Linked DNA regions of Homo sapiens. The protein of the gene in region 3 purifies or fractionates together with the protein of the main gene of each other region. This does not show direct contact. Each region holds a gene or a part of one and is shown on either strand. Other genes may lie near its edges.

The links.
Region 1: the proteins of BACE2 (region 3) and PAPOLG purify together in Homo sapiens (affinity purification with mass spectrometry; one large-scale study listed by BioGRID and IntAct). This does not show direct contact.
Region 2: the proteins of BACE2 (region 3) and KIDINS220 purify together in Homo sapiens (affinity purification with mass spectrometry; one large-scale study listed by BioGRID and IntAct). This does not show direct contact.
Region 4: the proteins of BACE2 (region 3) and PUM2 purify together in Homo sapiens (affinity purification with mass spectrometry; one large-scale study listed by BioGRID and IntAct). This does not show direct contact.
Region 5: the proteins of BACE2 (region 3) and SOAT1 purify together in Homo sapiens (affinity purification with mass spectrometry; one large-scale study listed by BioGRID and IntAct). This does not show direct contact.
Region 6: the proteins of BACE2 (region 3) and PIK3C2A purify together in Homo sapiens (affinity purification with mass spectrometry; one large-scale study listed by BioGRID and IntAct). This does not show direct contact.
Region 7: the proteins of BACE2 (region 3) and DEPDC1B purify together in Homo sapiens (affinity purification with mass spectrometry; one large-scale study listed by BioGRID and IntAct). This does not show direct contact.

The regions. Positions count from the first base shown.
Region 1 is NC_000002.12:60,762,768-60,766,267, reverse strand, and holds part of PAPOLG (poly(A) polymerase gamma), read right to left. Parts: intron 1-3,500. UniProt on the Homo sapiens protein: Responsible for the post-transcriptional adenylation of the 3'-terminal of mRNA precursors and several small RNAs including signal recognition particle (SRP) RNA, nuclear 7SK RNA, U2 small nuclear RNA, and ribosomal 5S RNA.
Region 2 is NC_000002.12:8,729,614-8,733,113, forward strand, and holds part of KIDINS220 (kinase D-interacting substrate of 220 kDa), read right to left. Parts: intron 2,370-3,500; coding exon 1,107-2,369; 3' UTR 1-1,106. UniProt on the Homo sapiens protein: Promotes a prolonged MAP-kinase signaling by neurotrophins through activation of a Rap1-dependent mechanism. Provides a docking site for the CRKL-C3G complex, resulting in Rap1-dependent sustained ERK activation.
Region 3 is NC_000021.9:41,269,160-41,272,659, reverse strand, and holds part of BACE2 (beta-secretase 2 isoform A preproprotein), read right to left. Parts: intron 1-3,500. UniProt on the Homo sapiens protein: Responsible for the proteolytic processing of the amyloid precursor protein (APP).
Region 4 is NC_000002.12:20,253,345-20,256,844, forward strand, and holds part of PUM2 (pumilio homolog 2), read right to left. Parts: intron 2,827-3,500; coding exon 2,689-2,826; intron 1,998-2,688; coding exon 1,872-1,997; intron 1,641-1,871; coding exon 1,519-1,640; intron 671-1,518; coding exon 478-670; intron 1-477. UniProt on the Homo sapiens protein: Sequence-specific RNA-binding protein that acts as a post-transcriptional repressor by binding the 3'-UTR of mRNA targets.
Region 5 is NC_000001.11:179,355,989-179,359,180, reverse strand, and holds the end of SOAT1 (sterol O-acyltransferase 1), read right to left. Parts: 3' UTR 501-3,192; downstream 1-500.
Region 6 is NC_000011.10:17,205,187-17,209,148, reverse strand, and holds the start of PIK3C2A (phosphatidylinositol 4-phosphate 3-kinase C2 domain-containing subunit alpha), read left to right. Parts: upstream 1-1,162; 5' UTR 1,163-1,301; intron 1,302-3,962.
Region 7 is NC_000005.10:60,596,412-60,599,166, reverse strand, and holds the end of DEPDC1B (DEP domain-containing protein 1B), read left to right. Parts: coding exon 1-92; intron 93-1,252; coding exon 1,253-1,414; 3' UTR 1,415-2,255; downstream 2,256-2,755.

The DNA.
Region 1 (3,500 bases), on a different chromosome or scaffold from region 3:
TGCCATTACAATTCTTAAATTCTTTTTTGCTATATTTACTGACTTCTTTGGCATGTAAAATCATATTTCATATTTAATCTTCAATCATATTTACATTTCTCAGAGTTAAGAACTGTGTCTACTGCTTCTCTGTATTTTCTCACAATGCCCAGTACAAGTTCTAAAGAATATCTGCTGATTAACTTCAACTTGAATGTAAGTATCTATATAATAGGATATTATCCTTGTTAATGCTTCTGTGTAATGAATATTAAGGTTAAGAGTATCACAAATAATTTTATAGCTAGAAAGAAGTTAGTAAATTAATCAGATTTTTTAAAGAGACAGAGTCTTGTTATGTTGCCCAGGCTGGCCTTGAACTCTTAGGCTCAAGATCTTCCTGCTTCAGCCTCCTGAGTAGCTGGGACTACAGGCATGCACCACCATGCCCAGGAATCTGTAAATTTATTGATGATTAACATGAATGAAATGGACAGAGAAGACAGGACCTTAAAAAAATCTTTTAGTTCACATTTCTATTTTGAGAAGTCTGATTCTCGCATGATTTATGAGAAAGTGATATGCTAAATCAGTTTGCCACAGCCATAGTATCTAACCAAAATGATTTGATGTGGGATTCTACACTATTTAAAGTTTAAATATCCCAATTGTGTACAGATTCAAATCATCTTTGATTAAACCCAAATCCTTCAGTTACTTTCCAAAGTAAAATATACATAAAGAGAATTACAGGCTGTGAGTGGTGGCTCATGCCTATAATCCTAACACTTCGGGAGGCTGAGGTGGGAGGTTCACTTGAGCTCAAGAGTTCAAGATCAGCCTGGCAACACAGTGAGACCTCGTCACTTTTTTTTTTAAAATCAAAAAAAAAAAAAAAGAGAATTATAGGCTGGGTGTGGTTGTGACTCATGCCTGTAATCTCAACACTATGGGAAGCCAAAGCAGGAGGATCACTTGAGTACAAGAGTTTGAGGACAGCCTGGGCAACATGGCAAGACCCCATCTCTACCAAAAAAAAAAAAAAAAAAAAAAGTAGCTAGGCATCAGGATGTGTACCTGTAGCCTCTGCTACTTGGGGGGCTGGGGTGAGAGGATTGCTTGAGCCTAGGAGTTTGAGGCTGTAGTGAGCCATGATTATGCATGCCACTGCACTCCAGCTTGGGAGACAGACTGAGAGATCCTTCCCCCATTCCCCCACACAAAAGAGACAATTACAATTCACAAAGAAAAATGACCTCATCTGCTCAATGGAAGATGTTAACTAACTTTATTTTTTTTGACTACCTGTCACTAGCATTTCCATCTGCTCAGAATTTGACTCATCCAATAACTTCAACTATTGATAACCCTGGTGAGTTCAGAAATGAGGCAGACAGCCTTTTGGCAACAAAAGTAAATAGCATAAATACCATGTTAAACTCAACGACTGTAGTCTTTAGGAGACTCAACTTTATTCTGAGCCCACTGTTTAAAAGAACCAATTCTACATATTCATCATAGCTACAGAAAAAAATAATAAAAGCTGTAAAAGAAAGAATTCTAGACCGGGTGTGGTGGCTCATGCCTATAATCCTAGCACTTTGGGAGGCCAAGGCAGTTGGATTGCTTGAACTCAGGAGTTCGAGATCAGCCTGGCCAACATGGCAAAACCCCGTCTCTATCAAAAATACAAAAATTAGCCAGGTGTGGTGGTGCATGCCTGTGGTCCCAGCTACTAGGGAGGCTGAGGTGGGGAGGTTGGGAGGACTGCTGGAGCCTGGGAGGCGGAGGTTGCAGTGAGCTGAGATCGCGCCACTGCATTCCAGCCCGGGTGACAGAGTAAGAGCCCATCGCCAAAAAAAAAAAAAAAATCTGCAGTTGTTTACCTAATTTCTAAATCCATGCAGATTAAGGGGCAGAAAGGGACTTTACAGCTAGACACACTGACAACTGTGAGTTTTAAACAGTGGGCTTTCTTTTAAACAGTGGGCTTTCAACTGACTGCTGTTAAGGCAAAGATAGGAAAACTATGAAAAACAAAAACCTTAAAATATAACAGTATGGGCTACCTAGTGATGAGGCAAATGGTATCACCCAGTTGAACATTCTCTCCCTCATTCTGGTACAGCCAGTAAAATAACCTTCGCAGTGGTGATTCTCAGACAATAATAAAAATTCAATTGTGAGGCAGGGCATGGTGGCTCATGCCTGTAATCCCAGCACTCTGGGAGGCCGAAGAGAATGGATTACTTGAGGTCAGGAGTTCGAGACCAGCCTGGCCAACATGGTGAAACCCCATCTCTACCAAAAATTCAAAAATTAGCTGGGCATGGTGGCGTGCACCTGTAATCCCAGCTACTCGGGAGGCTGAGGCAAGAGAACTGCTTGAACACAGGGGTGGAGGTTGCAGTGAGTCAAGATTACGCCACTGCACTGCAGCCTGGGCAACAGAGAGAGACCATGTCTCAAACAAGAACAAAACCAAGGCCAGGTGTGATGGCTCACACCTGTAATCCCAGAAATTTGGGAGGCTGAGGCGGGTAGATCACCTGAGGTCAGGAGTTTGAGACCAGCCTGACCATTATGGTGAAACCCCGTCTCTACTAAAAATATAAAAATTAATTGGGCATGGTGGTGTGCACCTGTAGCCCCAGCTACTTGGGCGGCTAAGACAGGAGAATCGTTTGAACCTGGGAGGTAGAGGCTGCTGTGAGCTGAGATCTCGCCACTGCACTCCAGCCTGGGTGACAGAGCAAGATTCTATCTCAAAAACAAAAACAAAAACAATTATATTCAAAATATAGTTAGCCTTCCGTATCTGCAGTTTCCACATCTGCAGATTCAACCAATCACACACAGATAAAAAATACTGGGGGGAAAAAGCCATAAAAAATCAAGCAAATTTTAGGCAAGGCGCAGTGGCTCATGCCTGTAATCCCAGCACTTTGGGAGGCTGAGGTCAGAAGACTGCTGGAGACCAGGAGTTTGAGACCAGCCTGGGTAATACAGTGATACTCTTGTGTCTACAAAAAATAATAAACAAAATAAGCCAAGCACAATTGTGCATTCCTACAGTTCCAGCTATTCAGGAGGCTGAGGTGGGAGGATCACTTGAGCCCAGGAGTTTGAGACTGCAGTGAGCTATGTAACTGTGCCACTGTACTGCAGCCTGGGTGACAGAGGGAGATCCTGTCTATAAAAAAAAAATAAAATAAAATTTATGGTTGGGCGTGGTGGCTCAAGCCTGTAATCCCAGCACTTGGGGAGGCTGAGGTGAGATCATGCCACTGCACTATAGCCTGGGTGACAGAGCAAGACTCTGTCTCCAAAAAAAAATAAAATAAAATAATGAATAAAATTTAGGCTGGGCGCGGTGGCTCGAGGCTGTAATCCCAGCACTGTGGGAGGCTGAGGCAGGCGGATCACCTGAGATCAGGAGTTCGAGACCAGCCTGGTCAACATGATGAAACCACGTCTCTACTAAAAATACAAAAATTAGCCCGGTGTGGTGGTACACGTCT
Region 2 (3,500 bases), on a different chromosome or scaffold from region 3:
GTTACATGTTTCCAAATTTTTTTTTAAAAAGTATTTCCTTTCTTATGATCCTTCCCCAGAACTAACATGCTGACTTAGGAACAGATGAAGTAGATAAAGTCTATCCTAGTATAGAGAGCAATGATTTAGTTTTACCTAATTAAATATTTCCTTGTCATTTATCAATTGTCACTGACCTTTTTGATGTAATTATTTCCTCATTCACTCATCTATAAATATTTATTAGTACCTATTATTACCCATGTCTCCCTGATTTTCCAGAAAAAGAATTCATGTTTTTTTTTCTTCTCATTGCTAAGCTCACTTAGAAAAGTTGGGCACCATTTAAAAGAGTTGGAGAACAGACCAGGGTGGCTTCTTGGGCACAGCTGGATGGTGCTGGAAGCCAGGCCTGGGATTTGGAGAGAAGAGTTTCCGACATATAAACCCACGGAGGTCACCAGCCCTCCCCGCATCTACTCTCCTAACAGCTCAGGACAGCCCCGTCACACTACTGCCAGCCCTGGTGACTCACTTTGTTGGCAATTTTTAAAGCCCTCTTCATTATGTACTTCCTACTCTTCAGAACCTCTGTGATAAGCAATACCCCTGCCATACAGAACGCTGGATCTCGGTTTACTCAGCCTCTCCCTGTAGCGTCACAGGCTGTGCACTCACCTAGGTGAGCCCCTAAGAGCAGGGTTTGCTTCTGCTTCACCTAACGCCACGTCTTCCCTCAAATGTGTGGTCACCAAATGTTTGCAAAAAGGGTCTCTAGCTTTTTTTCTTTTTGGCACATTAAGCCCTTTAAAATACTTCTGACCTATCTTTATACTCAGATCTCACCTCGTCTCAAAAAGTTTTATGGGGTAATGCGCCAATGAAAGGTACAGTAGTATTAGTGAGTTCTGAAGCTTCTAATTACAAAGACCACAGAGGCTGGCTGGTGAGCCATGCTTCTCATGCTCCCTTCTGTCACACTGCAGATGTCTCTTTTACCTCGGCCTCATCATCGGTTAGTTATCTGTCAGCAAAATGTAGAAAGGTGATGGGCGTGGATGGAGTCAAAATCCAGGACAATTCTGTCATAAAGGTACAGTAACACTCTTCTCCTTTGCTTGTTTTTCTCAAAGAATGCTTTCTCTTTCTTCTCCAAAGCCTGTGCTCTCAGAAGAGGCTGCTGCATGGAGCTCCGGAGGATCTTTGGAGAGCCTTGTGTAACTTGAACGTTGGCTTCGCTTATGTGTCATGCTTTTTAGATTCTCATTCTGAATAGTGGTTGGGTTGGGACTGGAACTAGGCCTCAAAATGACTTGAGAAGTCTCCCTAATTCCCTCCATCTCATCGAAATTTTGATTGGCTCTGTTGGCTGGAGCACTATTGTTGTTCAGAGTCACGGTGCTGGGAGTTCGGTTCAGGTTGTAGGCTTTCTGGCATGCAGGCCAGTTTTCTTCAGGGCTGCTGGCTATCAAGCTGCATTCGGAAGGGCTTTTCTTGTCTTCTGAACAAATGGACATCCGAGCTATAATTGGATCTTGCAGGCCACTCAGGCTATGTGGGATTCCCCGCTTTCCGCTGTGACTGTCATCTTCCAGCTCTATGAGATTTGCCTTTTCAAGCTGGGAGTCATCCGCCACTTCATTGTGCAGAGAGTGATTGGGAGAACTTTCACTGGATCTCACTCCTGAATCCGATGAATCCTTTTTGTCAAGGAGCGCATCCGATAAATACTCTTTGGCTTTAATGAAGGTTCTGATCGGCTCAGCACTGTGTTCTGGAGACTTCGGCACTCTCTCTACTTTCCCTTCGGCTTTTCTGTCTTTGTCATCTTTGAGCAGTGGAGTGTTATCTGATTCTTCTGTGCCAGATTCATCCTCGTCACTTGGGAGTTTTTGATAGCGCAGCCCACTTCCCTTAAGCTTCAAATCTGTCTGGAAGAGGCTTGACCTTTCGGAAGATTTCTTGCCTGGGAGAAGCTTACTGCCTGACTGATCTGATTTTTCATCTTCTTCAGTGATAGGATCCAGGGGGGAAGCATCGTTGGTGGAAACCCCTGATGATGAATAATCGATAACATCTCCCCTCTTCATTAGAAAGGACTTCCTCCCATCATCGGGCTTTGGTTCACTATCCTTCCCCTTTTCTTGCTCTAGGTTTGAATGAATAGAGCCCCCTGATGAACTCTGACCCATGTAATATGTGCTATGTGGAGAAGATCTGCCACTAATGGTTGTAGACCCGGGGCCCCCTTCTAACTGGGACATCTGAGCAATGTATTCTCTATAGGCATCTCTATACTCGGCCTGCACCTTATCAGTAAGCTTTGAAATTTCAATACTGGAATCCTGGGAATTGAGACTCGAAAGACTTGGGGTTCTGCGAGTTTGTGACTGTGAAGACAGAAAAAAAATAATTTAAAAATTCAAATAAGAAGAAAAAAGGCATAAACATCAGCTTAGGAAATATATATGTACACTAACCATTTAAAAAGTCATCAAAACATCAAATTCTTTTAAAAGAATTCTACATAACACAGATTAACAAAAGCTGTGACCTTATAATGCTGTTACTAGAAAGCTTTCTATAAATTTTAATAAAATCAGTTTATTGTTAATATTTAAAAGTATGATTAAACACTGTATTAACAAATAATCTTAGCACTTGTTTCTGGTTTTTATTTCATTTTTAAGAGACAGGATCTTGCTGTGTTGCCCAGGCTAGATTCAAACTACTGGACTCAAGCAATCCTCCCGCCTCAGCCTCCTGAGCAGCTGGGACTATGGGCATGTCCCACATGCTCGGCCACAGCACTTGTTTTTATAACTTCAAACGTTTAGCTTTTATTTAAGGCCAAAGTCAACTTCATTGATAAAATATAAAATGCAATGAGGCCAATAGTTGGGCCTTAGTAAACAGAAAAATAAAGTAGTTTTACAAGTTTATTTCCAATATTAAGTTTTAGAATTAGAATTTGCTTCAGATCCCAGAATAGCTAAGAAACAAGGAGCAAAAAGTACAGATGAGGAAAAAGAAGGAGAAGAATCAAGAAAGTTTAAGAAGGGTCAAGAGCAAAGGCTAAAACAAAAAAGAAGGAGCAAAGTGAATTTGTTGGGGACCTTCTCAAGGAAATAGGACATTTTCTTCCTTCCCCAAGGCGCTGCTCCTCCTCACCGCTGCCCTGCCCTGCCCACTCAGTGTTACTCGCTGCCGCCCGCTGTGCCTCCTCCCCCGTTGTTCTCCACACCCTGCTCTGCTTTTCCTCCTGCGCTCTCCTCACTCCCGCTACTCCTCCTGCATCTCTCACTTTGCTCTGTCCCTGCCCCTACCCCTACCCCTCACCTGGCCTCCTTCTTCTAAGAATCTCCAAAGGAAGAACGCGCCTACATCTAATGCCAGACCAGAAGAAACCAATATCCGTGAAGGGTGTGCAGGCGTCCTGGAAAACCAAAGGATGGTGCTCAAAGGGACACTATGTGGCCAGTGTTCCAATGAAGATGTACTTCAACCAACAGTTACTGAAT
Region 3 (3,500 bases):
CACGGAAGACATTAAAGATCTAAATCAAATTTTTAGTGATAAAAATTATAATATGTGAGATGAAAAATATACGGGATGGTTGTAAGAGCAGATTATACACTGCAGAAAAACAGACTAATGAATTTAAAAAAAACCAAAACAATAGAAATGAAGCACAGAGAAAAAACTGAAAAAAAAGAGAGAGAGAGAACATCAGTAAACTGTGGACAATATCAAGCTGCTAAATCATGTAATCAGAGTACTCAAAAGGAAGAAGGGATTGTGAGGCAAAAAATATTTGAAAAAACCAAAAATTTTCCAAATTTTATGAAACTATAAACCCACAGACCCAAGAAGCCCAAAGGACCCCAAACACAAGAAACATGACATAGATTATAATAGCGCACTGCTGAAAACCAGTGATAAAGAGAAAATTTCCTAAAAGCAAGGAGAGAGAAAAAAGAAATATTATGTACAAATGAATAATAATAAGGATTACAGATGATTTCATGTTGGAAGCAATGCAAACTAGAAGACAATAGAGTAACATCTTTAAAGTACTGGGGGTAGAAGAAGCCCTGTCAACCGAGAACTCTATACCCAGCAAAAATATCTTAAAAATGAAGAAGAAATAAAAATATTTTCAGTCATACACAAGCTGAGAGAACACATCACAGATTTTCACTACAGAAAGTTCTTCAAGCAGAAGAAAAAGGACATCAGAAGGAAACTTGAATCTACACAAAAGAATGATGAACACCAGAAGCGGGAAGTATATAGTAGTTATAAAATCTTTACTTTTAATTTTAAATATTTACAAAGATAATCAATTAAATCAAAAATTATAACAATGTGCTGGGTGGCTTATAATATAGGCATAGGTAAAATGGATGACAATAGCACAAAGGACCGAAGGCAAGAAATGGAAGTCTATTGTTGGAAGGCTCTTAGACTATATGAAGTGGTAGACTGTGGTCAGTTAAAAAATTTACACTACATATTCTAAAGCAACCACTAAAATTTCACGATATAGAGTTATAGCTAATAAACTAGCCAAGGAGATATAAAGAAATAGAAAATAATCCAAAAGAAGGCAGCAAAAAAGGAAAAAAGGGAAAAAATGTAACAAATGAGACAAAAAGAAAAATAGTTTTCTTTGTTGTGTTACTGGTTAAACACAGACATATCAATCATACATTAAATATAAATAGTCTAAACCAGCATTTGGCAAACTTTTTCCGTAAAGGGCCAGATAGTAAATATGTTAAGCTTTTTAGGTTAGCTTCTTTCTGATTTTTTCAACCCTTTAAAAATGTAAAAACTATTCTTACCTCACAGGCCATACAGAAACAAGCCACATGCTGGATTCAGCCTATAGACTGTTGTTTGTGGATCTCTGGCCTAAACATCACAACTAAAAAACAGAGACTGCTAAATTAGATAAAAAGCAAGATCCAAGTATATTCTCCCTACAGGAAACTCACTTTTAATGTTAAGACTCAAAATGTTAAAACTAAACAGATGGAAAAAAACTATCATATTAATGCTTATCAAAAGAAATCCAGAGTGGCTATATTATTAGACAGAATAGATACAGATCAAAAAAATTACTAGAAGTAAATATAGTAGTTTCATAATGATAAACTGTTTCCTTCATAAATAGGACATAAAAATCCTAATGTTTTTTTACCTAATAACAGTGTTTCAAAATACATAAAACAAGATTGATGAAAATGCAAAGAGAAATAGACAAATCCACAAATATAGTCAGAGATTCCAATATCCGTTTCTCAATAATAGAGCAAGTAGACAGAAAATAAGTTATGATATAGAATACCTAAACAACACTATTAACTAACTTGATCTAACTATTATAAACTAATCCACCCATAATAGCAGAATATACATTGTTTTCAAGAGCACAAGAAATATTTACTGTGATAGACTATATTCTGGACAATGAAATAAGTTTCAATAAATTTCAAAAGATTCAATTCATAAAAACTATATTCCCTGCCCACACTGAGGTTATATTAGAATAACAGAAAGCTTCTGGAAAAATCCCTAATTATTTGGAAACTAAATAACACATTTGTGGCCAGGTGTGGTGGTGGCTCATGCCTATAATCCCAGCACTTTAGGCGACGGTGGTAGGAGGATCACTTGAGGCCAGGAGATGGAGGCTGCAATGAACTATGCTCACGCTACTGTACTCTAGTCTGGTGACAGAGCAAGACCCCATCTCCATTATATATATATAAAATCTTTGTGTCCTGGGGTTAGGCGAAAAATTTCTTAGCTATAGTACCCAAAAGCACAATTTGTAAAAGGAAAAAAAATGGATTTTATCAAAATTAAGTAAGAACTGCTCCTCTTTAATAGAAAATATTAACAGACTAAAAAGACTTGGCAAAAATATTTGAAAGCCAAATTTCTGATAAAGGACTTGTATTCTTCATATATAAATAACTCTGAGGACTCAATGAGAAAACAAACAACCCTATACAAAAATGGGCAAGAACATTTGAAAAGACATTTCATTTAAAAAGATGCATGAATGGCAAAAAAGTACATGAAAAGATATTCAGGATTATTAGTCATTAGGGAAATGCAAATTAAAGCCACGATGAGACCGCTAAATATTAATACCTATTAAAATGAAAATACTGACCATACCAAATGTTGGTGAGGATGTTTAACAACTGGAACTTTCATACACTGTTGGCAGGAATGTGACATGATAAAGCCAACTTTGAAAATGAGTTTGGCAGCTTTTTAAGTAGTAAAACATACATGTTATGTAACTCAACGATTCTACTCCTAGGTGTTTATCCAGGAGAAATAAAAAACAAAATATATGTCCAAGGACTTGCATGCTATTGTTGATAGCAGCTTTATTTATAATTGCCAAAAAACCCAAAACTTGGCAACAATCCAAAAGTTCATCAACAGGTGTATGGGGATAAAGAAACTATAATGCCTAATTGATCTGCAATAAAAATGAACTTTTGAACATGAAACATTATAGATGAACCTCAAAATAATTTTATTGTGTGAAAGCAGTCAGACAAAATGGAATACATACTGTATGATTTCATTTATATAAAATTCTAACAAATACAAACTAGTCTACAGTGACAGAAGGCACGTCAGTGGTTTCCTGGGAATGGCATGGGGTCCACAGGACCTGGGAGGCAGGGAAAACAGCTCAGTGCATATGATCACTACCTTGTTTGTGGTGATGGTTTCAAGGTGCGCACACATATAACACTTATCAAACTGTATCCTTTCAACATGAACTGTTTATTTTACACCAATTATATCCCAACAAAGCTGTTTCAAAAAGTCAAAAGAATAAGATAGTCAAAGCATGTCAAAGAATAGCACATCTGTTATAATCTCATTGAGATTAGAAAAGAAAAACCGAGGCCAGGCTCGGTGGCTCATGCCTGTAATCCCAGCACTTTGGGAGGCCGAGGCAGGTAGATAACCTGAGGTCAGGAGTTGAAGACCAGCTTGAC
Region 4 (3,500 bases), on a different chromosome or scaffold from region 3:
ACAGGCATGTATCGTCATACCCAGCTAATTTTTAAATTTTTTGTAGAGATGGGGGTCTATGTTGTCCAGACTGGTCTTGAACTCCTGGGCTCAAGTGGTCTCCCACCACAGCCTCCCAAGTAGCTGGGACTAAAGGGTTGCACCATGATGCTTGTCTAATTGTTTTTCTTTTTTTTTTTTTGTAGAGGGAGGGTCTTGCCACATTGCTCAGGCTGGTCTCAAACTCCTGGGCTCAAGTGATCTTGTCACCTCAGCCTCCCAATCTGCTGGAATTATGGGCAAAAGCCCCCATGCCTGGCCATGATAACCTTAAGCATAAAAATGGAAACCATACCAATATATCTGCCAAAGGATATCCATCGATTTTAATTTTTCCTCCAGTTATAACATACGGGAGGAAATGAAAGCCCAAGGAGGTTAAATGTGTAGCCTAAACACAAAGACAAACAGTTATCTGAGTGTTACATGCTGTATTACCTTGTGCATGATTATCTTTCTCTGAGCAGGTTCAGCCATATCAATCATCTTTTGAACCACGTAATTGGCATACTGGTCCTTCATCATGGTGTATAAGGCACTGTGAGGACCATCATTCTGGCAGCAAACCTCGTCAATCAGTAAAGCTCTCTCAGCACGGGAGGCATGAGTAACACACTTTTCTACTACATTGCTAAAAATTAAAGCAGATAAACAAAGATTTGTTATTTTTTTCTTCACAGCAAAATTTCCTTGACTTATAGAAAGAATCTTCTCCAATGAACAATAAAACAGAAGTCAGGATGGGATTCTCTTGTCTTATGATTACTTTTATTTTATTTTGTTCTTTTTTTTTTTGAGACAGGGTCTTGTTCTGTCACCCGGGCTGGAGTGCAGTGATGCTATCACCGCTCACTGCAGCCTTGACCTCCCTTGCTGAAGTGATTCTCCCACCTCAGCCTCCCCCATAGCTGAGACTACAGGCATGCGCCACCACGCCTGGATAATTTTTTGTAGAGAAAGGATCTCCCTCTATGTTGTCCAGGCTGATCTCGAATTCCTGGGCTCGACTGATCCTCCTGCCTTGATCTCCCAAAGTGCTGGCTGGGATTACACGTGTGAGACACTGTACCCAGCCAATTACTTTTATAACAGAAATTGGTATCTTGGAACAACCTACATCATTTTGACATCCACAAGTTTAATTACAGGTCTCTTAAAATTGTACTTCAAAAAAAAGGAAACCAGATCATTAAAGCTGTGAGGTTTTCAAGAAACATGTACTAAATAAATCTGCATTTCCAGTGTCGGGAGTAATTATTTTCCAAATACAGATTTCATAAATGAACATATGTGGGCAAAACAAATTTGTTATGTAGATTTTTTTAAAAAACAAAAGCAATGTTCTATAGGTGCATTTTAATGATACCAAAAAAAAAAGACTACAGTTTAATGCTACATGCTACACGTATTTCTGTGATAACTAATAAAAGTCAATGAGTTGAAAGAATTGACCCTTAAAATTACAAAGTATTACAATACCTGGCAAATTTGTGTTGACTCAGGGCTAAAACCTTTCCCCTGATTTCGGAAACAATTTTGCTCTTGTCTTCAGGTCGACCGTGTTCCAGTACATGCTGAATAACATAATTGCCATACTGATCCTAAGACAGATATTTAAAAATTACTTTCCCTAAGTCATTCCTTAAGAATGATATTCTTTAAAGACATGTTAATCATTTCATCTAAAAATCCAGTAGGATAGTTAGGAGAATACAACAGCCTTTTGTCTCACTCTTGTCTATAGTGTGTTTAGTAACAAATTGTATTTCTTTTAAAAATTAAAACAATTTCCAAAAATATATAAACATTTCAAATTATTAGGGAATTTATACCTGTACCAACTGCTCTGTATGTTGGTGGAGTTCTTCTAAGATAGGTAAGGTCTGTTCTGCAGTGCAATGCTCTAGGATGCGCTGAATTACTCTGCAGCCATAAGGATGAGTTGAAAGCACAAATACCTGAGGACAATTAGAAGAATTAAAATTTGTATTCTCTGACATTTTTGAACAGTTCTATGAAGCAGACTGGTTTGTTTTTTTTTTTTTTGACAACACCTAAAAGCAGTTTGAAATAGAAGGGTGATGAACTCACATTTAATATGACTACCACCATGTTAGAAAAGACTGGAGAGTGGGGACAGGGAGCACTCCATTTAGGAGCTGAAGATATTTTGATCAAAAGGAACCTAACCAGAACTTTACCTGAACCTGAGGTTATGTAACAATGGGAATGAATGGGTGAAAAGAGAAAGGGTAGTTCAGCATTAAGAAATATTAATTACTATGTATTAGTTACAAATTGCTATGTGTTTTCTGTCTTATTATACAGTCTTATGTCTTTCTCCAAACCTCCTTCCCTTCTCTGAGTAAACCTGAAAACATCGTTGGGTATAAATAAAAAACAATTCTAACAGTGATTACCTTTACTTCTTAAAGTAATGTGATTAAACTATTTGTTTTGCAGCTTCAGAAAAATGAAGCTATCTACTGACTATGAAAGAGGAAGAAATTAATGTACATTTACTGTTTTGTATCCTATTTTTGTATACAATTGCTGGGTATTATCTAGTGACTCATGAAAAACGTGTTGATATTCAAAATTCTAAAATAATGCCCTGCTAACAAATTATAAGCCAAAACTCAAACATACTTGTCCCTTGAAAGCATCAATGATGAACTGTAGTGACTGTGGCTGAACACATTCGATACATTTTTGTACAACATGGTTTCCATTCTGATCTTTCACACATTTGAGCACATGACCATCCAGCTCCTTTACCATTTCACTCTGCAAAAGACAGGATGTCATTTAAATTATTACCTCAAACGAGAAAATACTAGTATATTTTATCTCAGTATTAAAAATTAAAAATATTAAAAATCTCAGTATATTTATCTCAGTATTAAAAATACTGAGATGGGAACACAAATATATTCACAAATATTATTTCCTGTTTGTCAAGGGTTTAAATTTTTTTCTCTTGTAGTATAATTAGCAGAAACCATTGAAAAGTGAAAATTACTAAAACACACTGCAGGATTATAATGTAAATGATGTATGTTGAAACAACGTAGTGATGCTGAACTTGCTGTATTTAAACTGTCTTCACTGTGTAAATCATCCGCTAATATTTATCGGGCGGTAACTAACATGACTAATTCAGAATTACACACTTCCGCCTTACTTAGTACCACCTCCACCACCAAAGGAATTATTTTTAATGGCTGAGTGAGTTTATCAAGTACATAGAAAAGGCTAAGAAGTTGATGACTACTTATGGGCTATGATTTTTACATATTATCTCAATAATTCCCTAAGGGAAGAATTAATGTCAGGTATCTTTGTTCTTTTATAAAATGCTCTTATAATAAAGTGCTTATAGCCAGATGCGATGGCTCACACCTGTAATCCCAGCACTTTGGGAGCCTGAGGCTGGTGGATCACCTGAGCTCAGGAGTTTT
Region 5 (3,192 bases), on a different chromosome or scaffold from region 3:
TCCAAATATATTTATCACATTTACATGTGCAGTATTTTGCCTTTTTTGTATATTTTTAAGTTAAAAAAAAATTTTTTTTTGAGATGGAATCTCGCTCTGTTACCCAGGCTGGAGTGCAGTGGCGCGATCTCGGCTCAATGCAACCTCTGCCTCCCGGATTCAAGCAATTCTCCTGCCTCAGCCTCCCAAGTAGCTGGGATTACAGATATGTGCCACCATGCCTGGCTAATTTTTTTGTATTTTTAGTAAAGACGAGGTTTCACCATATTGGCCAGGCTGGTCTCGAACTCCTGACCTTGTGATCCACCCACCTCAACCTCCCAAAGTGCTGGGATTACAGGCGTGAGCTACTGCGCCCGGCCTAAAAATTTTTAAGTTAATGCTAATACAACTCATACTAAACAAAGTATTGGTACCAGTGATCAGACAAGGACTTGCAGGGGGCAGAGGGAATAGCAATTCAGGAAAGTAACATACAAGAATGAATCAGAAAAGACATCTTTCACTATAGAAAAACCTTTAATAACAACTTCAGATTTACATGACCCTTCTGGTGCTCAGAACACTATGGATTAACACACACACTGGAAAGATACAGACACAGGAATCTGCTGCATTACCCCAAATGGCAAAGTCTTGACTGGGGCTTCAGCTCCTTTCCCAATCCAAAATTGGCACCTTTTTCCATGGAAATTCAAACTGCATCTCTAAATGATGGGGTACATGAACTGTCTGTTTCAAAAGTATTTAAAAACAAACAGGAAGTACAGCTTCCATTTCATTAAGAAAACACCACCACAAGACATGGTGCAGTATCTACTAGCTTAAAGTTTATCACTCCATTAGGGCTTATTGACAGCAGAAATGTGAATGTAGTAATGTAGAAATAAGGAAGAGAGCACTTAAGAAAAAAACAGTACAGAAGTTTTAGAGTTTTTTAAACTTTAATAATATGCTTGACTAATATAGTCAAAAGTGATATGCACTCGTGAAATTAACCCATTTTCTGAAGTCCAAATTAGCTATTAAAGTCTTTTTTTACCAAAAACATATAAGGATTTAGTACACTATATAGATTACATAGCTTTCCTACCAACCTAAAGCTTATCAACTTTATTATTGTCTACTGATTTTCAAACTAGGCATTAAATTTAGGGTGAGAAAGAAGTGATACACTCTGTTTCAACTAGGGTGGTTGCATATTATCCTCTCTTTAAACCGGGCTTATATGTAATTTTTTTTTTGAGACAGGGTCTCGCTCTGTTGCCCATGGCTCTGAAATGGAGGGAACTGGGACATAAATGTTTTGAGGAATTAAGTGGTGTGATCACAGGTCACAGGTCACTGAAGCCTCCATCTCCCGGCTTGAAGCCATCTTCCCACCTCAGCCGACTGAGTAGCTGAGACTACAGGCGTGCACCACCACGCCTGGCTAATTTTTGTATTTTTTATAGTGACAAGGTTTTGCTATGTTGCCCAGGCTGGTCTCAAACTTCTGAGCTCAAGCAATCCTCCTGCCTTGGCCTCCCAAAGTACTGGGATTAAAGGCATGAGCCACTACACCCAGCGATATGTAACATTTTATTTCAACAGAGGGCCAACACTGTATTACCTGACAGAAACTTTAATAATGATACAAAAGTCAAATCCTTATATAAACTTCACCCAAAACATTCACTTTGGCCGGGAGCATGGCTCATGCCTATAATCCCAGCACTATGGGAGGCTGAGGCTGGCGGATCATGAGGTCAGGAGTTCGAGACCAGCCTGACCATCATGGTGAAACCCCATCTCTACTAAAAACACAAAAATTAGCTGGACATGGTGGCAGGCACCTGTAATGCCAGCTACTCGGGAGGCTGAGGCAGGAGAATCGCTTGAACCCAGGAGGCAGAGGTTGCAGTGAGCTGAGATCACAGCACTGCACTCCAGCCTGGTGACTGAGACTCCGTCTCAAAACAAACAAACAAACAAAACATTCACTTTATTCCTTGAAACATTTATGTCCAGTTCCCTCCATTTCAGAGCCATAAAGCCTAGAGATAAGATACATAAAATACCCAGAACAGACCTTTGTGTGTATACAGTGTATGTATACATACCATATGTAGCATTGTTATGTAGTATTACATAAATTACATGAAATTTTGCATAAGATTAGTAAGCAAGTCACTGAAACTTTATTAACAATAAGTATGGGCTTGGCATGGTGGCTCATGCCTGTAATCCCAAAGCTTTCTGCAGTGGGAGTTTTGCTTGAGGTGAAGAGTTTGAGACCAGCCTGGGCAACATAGGGAGACCCCCCCCATCTCTAAAAAAAAAAAAACAAATAAATTAGCTGGGTGTGGTGGTAGGCACTTGTAGTTCTAGGTACTCCAGAGCACTATTTGAGTCCAGGAGTTTGAGACTGCAGTGAGCTATGATCACGCTACTACCAGCCTGGGCAACAGAGTGAGACCCTGTCTCTTTAAAAACAAAAACAAAGTATGAGCTATCTTCCATTAAAAAACTGATTCTGGAGCAAGGAGCCAGGAGCCGTGGCTCACACCTGTAATCCCAGCACTTTGAGAGGCTGAGGCAAATAGATCCCTTGACTCCAGGAGTTTGAGACCAGCCTGAGCAACATGGTAAAACCCCATCTGTACAAGAAAAAAAAAACTGGCCTGGGCGACAGAACAAGACTCTGTCTTAAAAAAAAAAAAAAAAAAAAAAAAAGGCAGCCTCAGTTTTCTAATTAAATTCTAACATGAGGCAAGCAACTTTACCTGCAAAGTTTTAGTATGTGAATCTACCAACAAACAAAACAAAATTCCATTTTGCATCATTATCCAAGATTGAGAATAAAAGGATCTAACAAATTTATCCTCACACATAAAGGTACTAGAAGGTCAAGTTAGAGATCTAATGAGAAAGTGATATACATACTACATAATTGTTCTGTTGGTTAATATGCCCAAAATAATAGTTACTATCATTACATCTTACAGAAACAAAAACTTTAAGCTTATTACTTTTCAGAAGGAAAAAAGTATCCTATAACTGAAAATAATTTTCGCCACAATAGCAAAATAGAAAAAATAAATCTTCCTGAAACATTAGCAAGAGATTTTAGTTTTTATTTGTTTAAAGAGTATAGGTGGTGGTTTCAAGAAAAGACTTTTGCTAAAAGCAGCTAGCAATAAGATTATGGCT
Region 6 (3,962 bases), on a different chromosome or scaffold from region 3:
GCAGGCATGTTTATTACAGCGCTATGAGGGATTCATCCACTCCACATTCCCCATTGCCCTAGCCCCCTTTCGCCAACCCCCGTCCCTGCCAAATCAGGCCAATTTCTTTCTTTCCAGTTATTTGCTGAAAGTTCAACTTCTCTTAGAGCCTTCTAATTATGCGTATATCATATAGGCTGATAATTTTTAGTTTAGGCTGAGAAATGCAGCCTAAATCAGTCTGCCACATCAGATTGTGAACGTCTGGATGGTGTGGACCCCCTTCTCCTACTGCTTAAAAGACAATCTTGTTGTAAAACGCTATGGAATCGTTCCTCTCCCCTTAACATCTTTGTGCCCCAGAAGCCCCATCTGTAAATGGGGATAATTTTCCTATATCTTCCCATGGTTACGTAATTTTTAGATCTAACACGTGAGGACCAAACGCTTTACAAGCATAATCTCATTAAATTCTCAATAAGAATATATTATTATGGAGGTTGCATGTGAAAATACTTTGTAATGTAGAAAGAGCCGTCTGGCTGTGAGTTATTATCAGGGGGTTATCTTCCTTACCTGGCTGTTGTGAGGATGAAACGAGACGCCGACCTGAAAGCGTTTTACGTGCTATCAAGCATTTTACAGAAACCACGTGATAGGCTACTAATTACCCACCGTATACCACCTGACCCACCGTGAGGCCTCGGTAAATACTGGTTGGAGTGGACGAGTTTAAGTCTTGCCTGTTCCTTTCAGTCTTCCAATCACAAAGTAATCTCGGCGCCGCCAGGGGCCAAGACACAAATCTGGGAACCTCAGCCTAGATGGAGGAGGGTGCGGGGTCCCGGGAGAGGGGATGAGAACAATAGGGTACTTCAGTGCCCGGGCCCTGTTTAGCGGGTCTTCGGACTCAGGGCCCGAGGGGCGGCCAGCTGGGGTGTCCGGAGAGCTCCCCTCCCCAGGTCTGGGGTGTGCACGGAGAGGCGTCCAGAGCCTGCTCAGCATTCCTCGGGAGAGAGCCAGACCCTGGTCCCCCGGGCCCGTGCGCCCCAGCGCCCCAGCTCCCTTGCTCACGCCACCCCGGCAGCGTCCAAGCCCCGCCCGCCAGCTCAGGTAGGCCGTCCGCGCCAGCCAATTCGCAACAAGTCCGGGCGGGGAAGGCGGTGCTTCCCTGTCCGGAAGTGACGTGCTGCGCTTGGCTGGCTGTGGAGTCGGCCGAAGCTTTCGGCGGCGGCTGAGCCAGCTGAGGGGAAAAATGGCTCGGACTGTGGCGGCTTCGGCGGCTCAGGTTGTGGTAGAGGCGGAGGCTCAGGCAGCTTGAGGTGAGGAGCGGTCGGTGCGGCTGGGGACGATATTCGGGGTCCTGCTCTGCAAGGGTGGAGAGGGGCCCCGGGGTTCCCGGGCTGGAAGGGTCTCTTGTCGCGGCCCCCAGTGCCTTGGGTGCCCGCGTCTGACCCTCCATCCCGTGCTCTTGGCGTTGCCCAGCCCGACTCCCCCCTCCCTCCGGGCCTTGCTTCCACCCAGGCCGTGAGCAAGTGCTGCGCTGGAGGTGCGAGGAGCCCGCGTCCCCACCAGGCCCCTCTTCTCGGGAGCGGAGGTGCGCCAGGGAGTTAGTTTTGTCCCACAGAAGGAGGGCAGGCCCCCCGGCCGCCGGCCCCCCTCCCCCGCCTTGTCCCGCGGGACCGGGCTGGAGCCGCAGTGGCCGGTCCTATTTTCTTGGCAGATTGTTAGTTCTGGCGAGTGTGTGTGTTGTACTTCTCAGTGACGGCCCCTTCTTTCACCTCCTGTCCCATCTCTGGCTCTGGGGGCCAAGGATACTTTTTCTTCTTCCCGGACCCCCCACTCCCACCGCGTTGCCTTTAGCCGCGAATCCACTTGCTTTGGGAACACTATTCTTTCAGTGTGTATTTAGCGCATCATCCTTCTGAGAGAGCGGTCAGATTAAAAAATACTAGCTTAACTCTTCCTGAGTGACGGAGGAATCATAAATAATTGAAGAAAAAGGCACATACTTATTTTCCTCACTGAATTTCTGGCTTTAAAAACGACATTCTCTAGCTGTGGAATTATTTTTTGGGGGAGGAGGGATTGAGGAGGGAAATGAGGAAGGAGAAACTAAGGAAAAAAGTCTGGACATAACGTGGAAGAGAGAGCCTGTTGTAGTTCTTTTCCTATACTGGCCCGATAGAAATTGAGGTTATAATTATATTCTTATTTTGAACAGTGGGGGTTTGAATTAAGTGAAACGAAGGAGGCCTGCCTCTTTGAACAAGATTAGTTATTAAAGAATGTCCTGAAATCTTTCCTGGTGGGTTTCAGGCAGAAAAGCTCTGTTGGGAAAATTTTTAAATCTATTGTAGCATCAAAGGCCACAGCATATAAGAGATGCAAGAAGAAGAAAGCTGTTTGTAGGGGAACGGTGAAGACATAGTAGAAAGAGGGAAGGCTGCACAGAAGTCCAGGAACTAATTCCAGGAGAGACTTTGTACCTTTGCCTCCTTGGCTTGTGGTTCAAGTCTCCACAAGAGACTCCTTTAGCAGCTCTGCCATAGTTGGGGTTGGTGCTCTTTTTTTTTTTTTTAATTGACATGGGGTCTCACTGTGTCGCCCAGGCTGGTCTACCATGCCCAGCAGAATGGTGCTTTTTTTTTTTTTAAATTTGATCTAACCTTATCTGGACAGGATGGTGCTCTTATTCACAGCAGCAAATTAGACGAAAGGACCCTAGTTGAAGTATACAGATTTTATTTTTATATAAGATATTTGTTTAGTATCAAGACAGTGGTTACATACTGAAAAACAATGTAACTGGGAATAGAGAGATTTTATTTGTTAACTCAGATTTAGTTCAAAAGTGATTTTACGTAGGTAGAAAGCACATATGGAGTTTCTTCCATAAATTCCGTAATTTTGGCTGAATTAATACATTCTAAAGTAGGTTTTTTCTTATCAAAGTGTCTTGCTATTTGTGTTTTATATGCGTGTTTCCTGCAGTTTTCTTTGCAAATAACATGTTTTAATGTTTTCATCACAGGTTTTACAATTTTTTTCTGTTTGAATCTCGCTCTGTCGCCTAGGCTGGAGTGCAGTGGCACGAGAGCTCACTGCAACCTCCACCTCCAGGGTTCAAGTGATTCTCCTGCCTCAGCCTCCTGAGTAGCTGGAATTACAGGCACGCGCCACCACACATGGCTCATTTTTGTGTTTTTTCAATAGAGACTGGTTTACACTATGTTGACCAGGCTAGTCTCGAACTCCTGACCTCAAGTGATCTGCCCGTCTTGGCCTCCCAAAGTGCTGGGATTAAAGACTTGAGCCACTGCACCTGGCAGTTTTTTCTGTTTTATAGAATACAAAAGCTGGCATGTTTGCATTGAGGAATTTTAGAAACTAACTTTTTGTAATGAATAACTGTATACTAAGTTTGTTTCTTCTGCAATTAATAGTTCTAAAATTTTCAATTAATTGAAGATTGCTTGCATTAATTCCCATGTCCAGGACTCTTTCTGTAGCACAAAGTTTTGCATTTAAGTAAGCACATTCAATAAGTGAACTTATACCTAAAGAGTGTTGAATTTCCTGAGAACTCAGAGTTCTTATAGAGCATCAGAGCAGCAGTAGTGCAAAGCATTTTTTGTAACTTGTTTTTCTTTGATAACATGAATTATTCTTTTTTTTTTTTTTTTTTTTTTTTTTGAGATGGAGTCTCACTCTGTTGACGAGGCTGGAGTGCAGTGGCACGATCTTGGCTCACTGCAACCTCCACCTGCCGGGTTCAAGTGACTCTCCTGCCTCAGCCTCCCGAGGAGCTGGGACTACAGGCGTGTGCCGCTATGCCCAGCTAATTTTTGTATTTTTAGTAGAGACGGGGTTTCACCATGTTGGTTGGCCAGGATGGTCTTGAGCTCTTGGCCTTGTGATCTGCCCACCTCGGCCTCCCAAAGTGCTGGGATTACAGGCTTGAGCTACCCTGCCCGGCTCTT
Region 7 (2,755 bases), on a different chromosome or scaffold from region 3:
ATGGCTCTCAGGAACCTCTGGCAGCCTTGTTGGAGGAAGTCATAACAGATGCCAAACTCTCCAACAAAGAGAAAAAGAAGAAACTGAAGCAGGTAAAAGGATATTCTTTATAAGCCATTTTTTCTCCTCCCTACTGTTTTTATGTTTTTTTTTTTATTTTAATAGGCTTCATGTAAATCTCATCTTCTGAGCCATAGCAGTTTTCTAAGTATATTAGTTCATACATTCTAGAAGTCTCACTGATTTACACACTTGTGGTCAGTATCCTAGATCTTTATTCTTCAGTGTAAATCTGTTACCATTGCCAAACTCTTCATTTTTGGAGCTATTCTCTAATATTTGTCCTTTGTTTTGGTATGTGGCATGATGTGAATTAGCAGAGCATCTGCTTTAATCTCAGAGAAGCTATCAGTGAGGGTGGATTTCTTTTCATGTTTTCAAAAGGCAAATCAGATGGAATTCACAGGTGTAAAATGTTTAGAGTTTAAAAGCCGTTGGTTTTAGATAGCCACTATCAAATTAGTTTCTTGCCTCAGGTATCAGTACAAGTTTTTAGTTCCTCTTATGTTAGGGAACACAGCTTAGGGTTCCAGCGAATCGTTTTTAACTCACAATATGTTACTTTTGACTATTCATAAAGGTTGATCCATGATCAGGTGAGTGGTTTTTGTTTTTAAAGACTGAACTCTACATAGTTGGATTCAGGGAACACCGTACATGTGGGATTACACACAGAGCACCAGAGTTCTGGGCTTCTGATCATATTATTCTCAGAGTAATTTTGGAGGAGAGTTTAGTGGTAAAGATCAACAGAAAGTATACTGCCTCTCTTTTAAGCTTTTCACAAAGTAATATACACCAGAATATTCCCTCTTCCATTTGAGCAGAAGCTGGTGGGGCTGAGTTGGAGAAACAGAGAAATGATGAAATGTAATTGGGCCAAAATTTTATTTAACTGTGTAGAACAGAAGTTATTTTGAAGTCAGAGTTACTTGTGAATATATAAAAAGTGAGGTCTATTTATAGTTGGCAGTGGGGGGAATTTTCAGAAACATGATTAAAAGGGGAACTTATTTGAAGCTTAGATCAAAGGAAAGATGGATTAGCTCTATAGAAATTGGAATGAAATGTTTTAACAAAAATAAACAAAAACAGGAAAATACAGGCTCAGAAACTCTTAAAATTTGGCTGCCAAATTTTATTGGCTTTTATGTGTCTTTTTTTACTCTTCTTGGACCATTCATTTTTTTAGTTTCAGAAATCCTATCCTGAAGTCTATCAAGAACGATTTCCTACACCAGAAAGTGCAGCACTTCTGTTTCCTGAAAAACCCAAACCGAAACCACAGCTGCTAATGTGGGCACTAAAGAAGCCTTTCCAACCATTTCAAAGAACTAGAAGTTTTCGAATGTAATAATACTTCCACAGCAACAGGTGCTAGAGACCACTGTTGTTGTTTTGAGTGAATGGTGGTTAGGAGAAAGACTTTGGTGGTGGAAGAAAGAAAAGCATAAAACAAAGACTACTGAAATATAGATAAAGATTGCCTTAGTTTTTAAAAATGTTTGGCCATTAGTATTTTTATAAAACTCAATGCTAGTTTTAAAGTGTATAAATTGGTTAAAATTTATGAGTCAAATATATAGTGATAATGTTAACATGTTTGTAATTGCTACAGAATTTAAGGGTATTTTTATCTCTGTGCTTTCTTTTTCATGGTGTTTATTAAATAATTGTGTATATACATCCTAGCTACTGATATCTTTATTATAGCCTTAAGACTTAATTTTAAGTCTTAAAAATAGCGTGTATACTTGAATAAGAAAGACACTGGGTACTGTTACTGTGATGCTATTGACTTAGTAGCCAATTATCATTTCTCCTGTATAAATTCCAGTTTTTATTGCTGCACATAAATTTTTTAATGTCTTATATTGTGATAGCTATGTCTTTTATTGCAGATTTATTGGATGTTATGACAGATTTTACTAAAGCTAGTGTTTTTATAACATATATATTAGTTGATGTTTACCTATAAGTGGAGTAGATTTTCATCTGCCTGCAATGGTATAATTTCAGTCTTAGCTAAAAATGGAAAGTTGAACTGGATAAATTCTTTGGGTACCCTTAGACCTCTGATTCTAAGTCAAATGCAAATGGGTTAAATAAAATGAGACTACTTCCTTTATAAATATATTTTCATCCTTTTGAAAGTAAGTGAAATGTAAATAAACTTATTTTTTTTAAAAATGCCATACCTCGTGTTTCTTTTTTGGCATTTATTTAGATCAGTTAGAGAGCATCCTCAAATGCCTTTGCCAATGGTCTTCATCAGTCATTTATTTCTATGAGAAAATGAAAAGTAAGATTTGGGCTTTTGTACTGACTGGTCTTTAGGTGAGCACTTTGCCAATTTTTTAGCATTGCTTTGTCCTTTTGTAAAATTGTGGTGCACTTGGATTATGGAGCATCTGAAAGTCTTCCTCTGAGCGCAATTACCCAGAAAGCTGAGAGCAACACCCACTAATTGGCTTACAGTACTCCTTGGACTGATTTTTCCTTGCACTTAAGATTTGCTCCTGTTCTCTTGTAGCAAAATACCTCCTACATCTGATGCAGATTTTGCTTTTAAAAATGGACCAAAGTATTCCTATTGGTTTGGGTACCACCTTACATTCCAAATACATAATGTAATGGGAGATTTTTAGTGTTTCAGGATTCATTCTCAGACTTTGGCATTCTGTTTAGAGCCAAG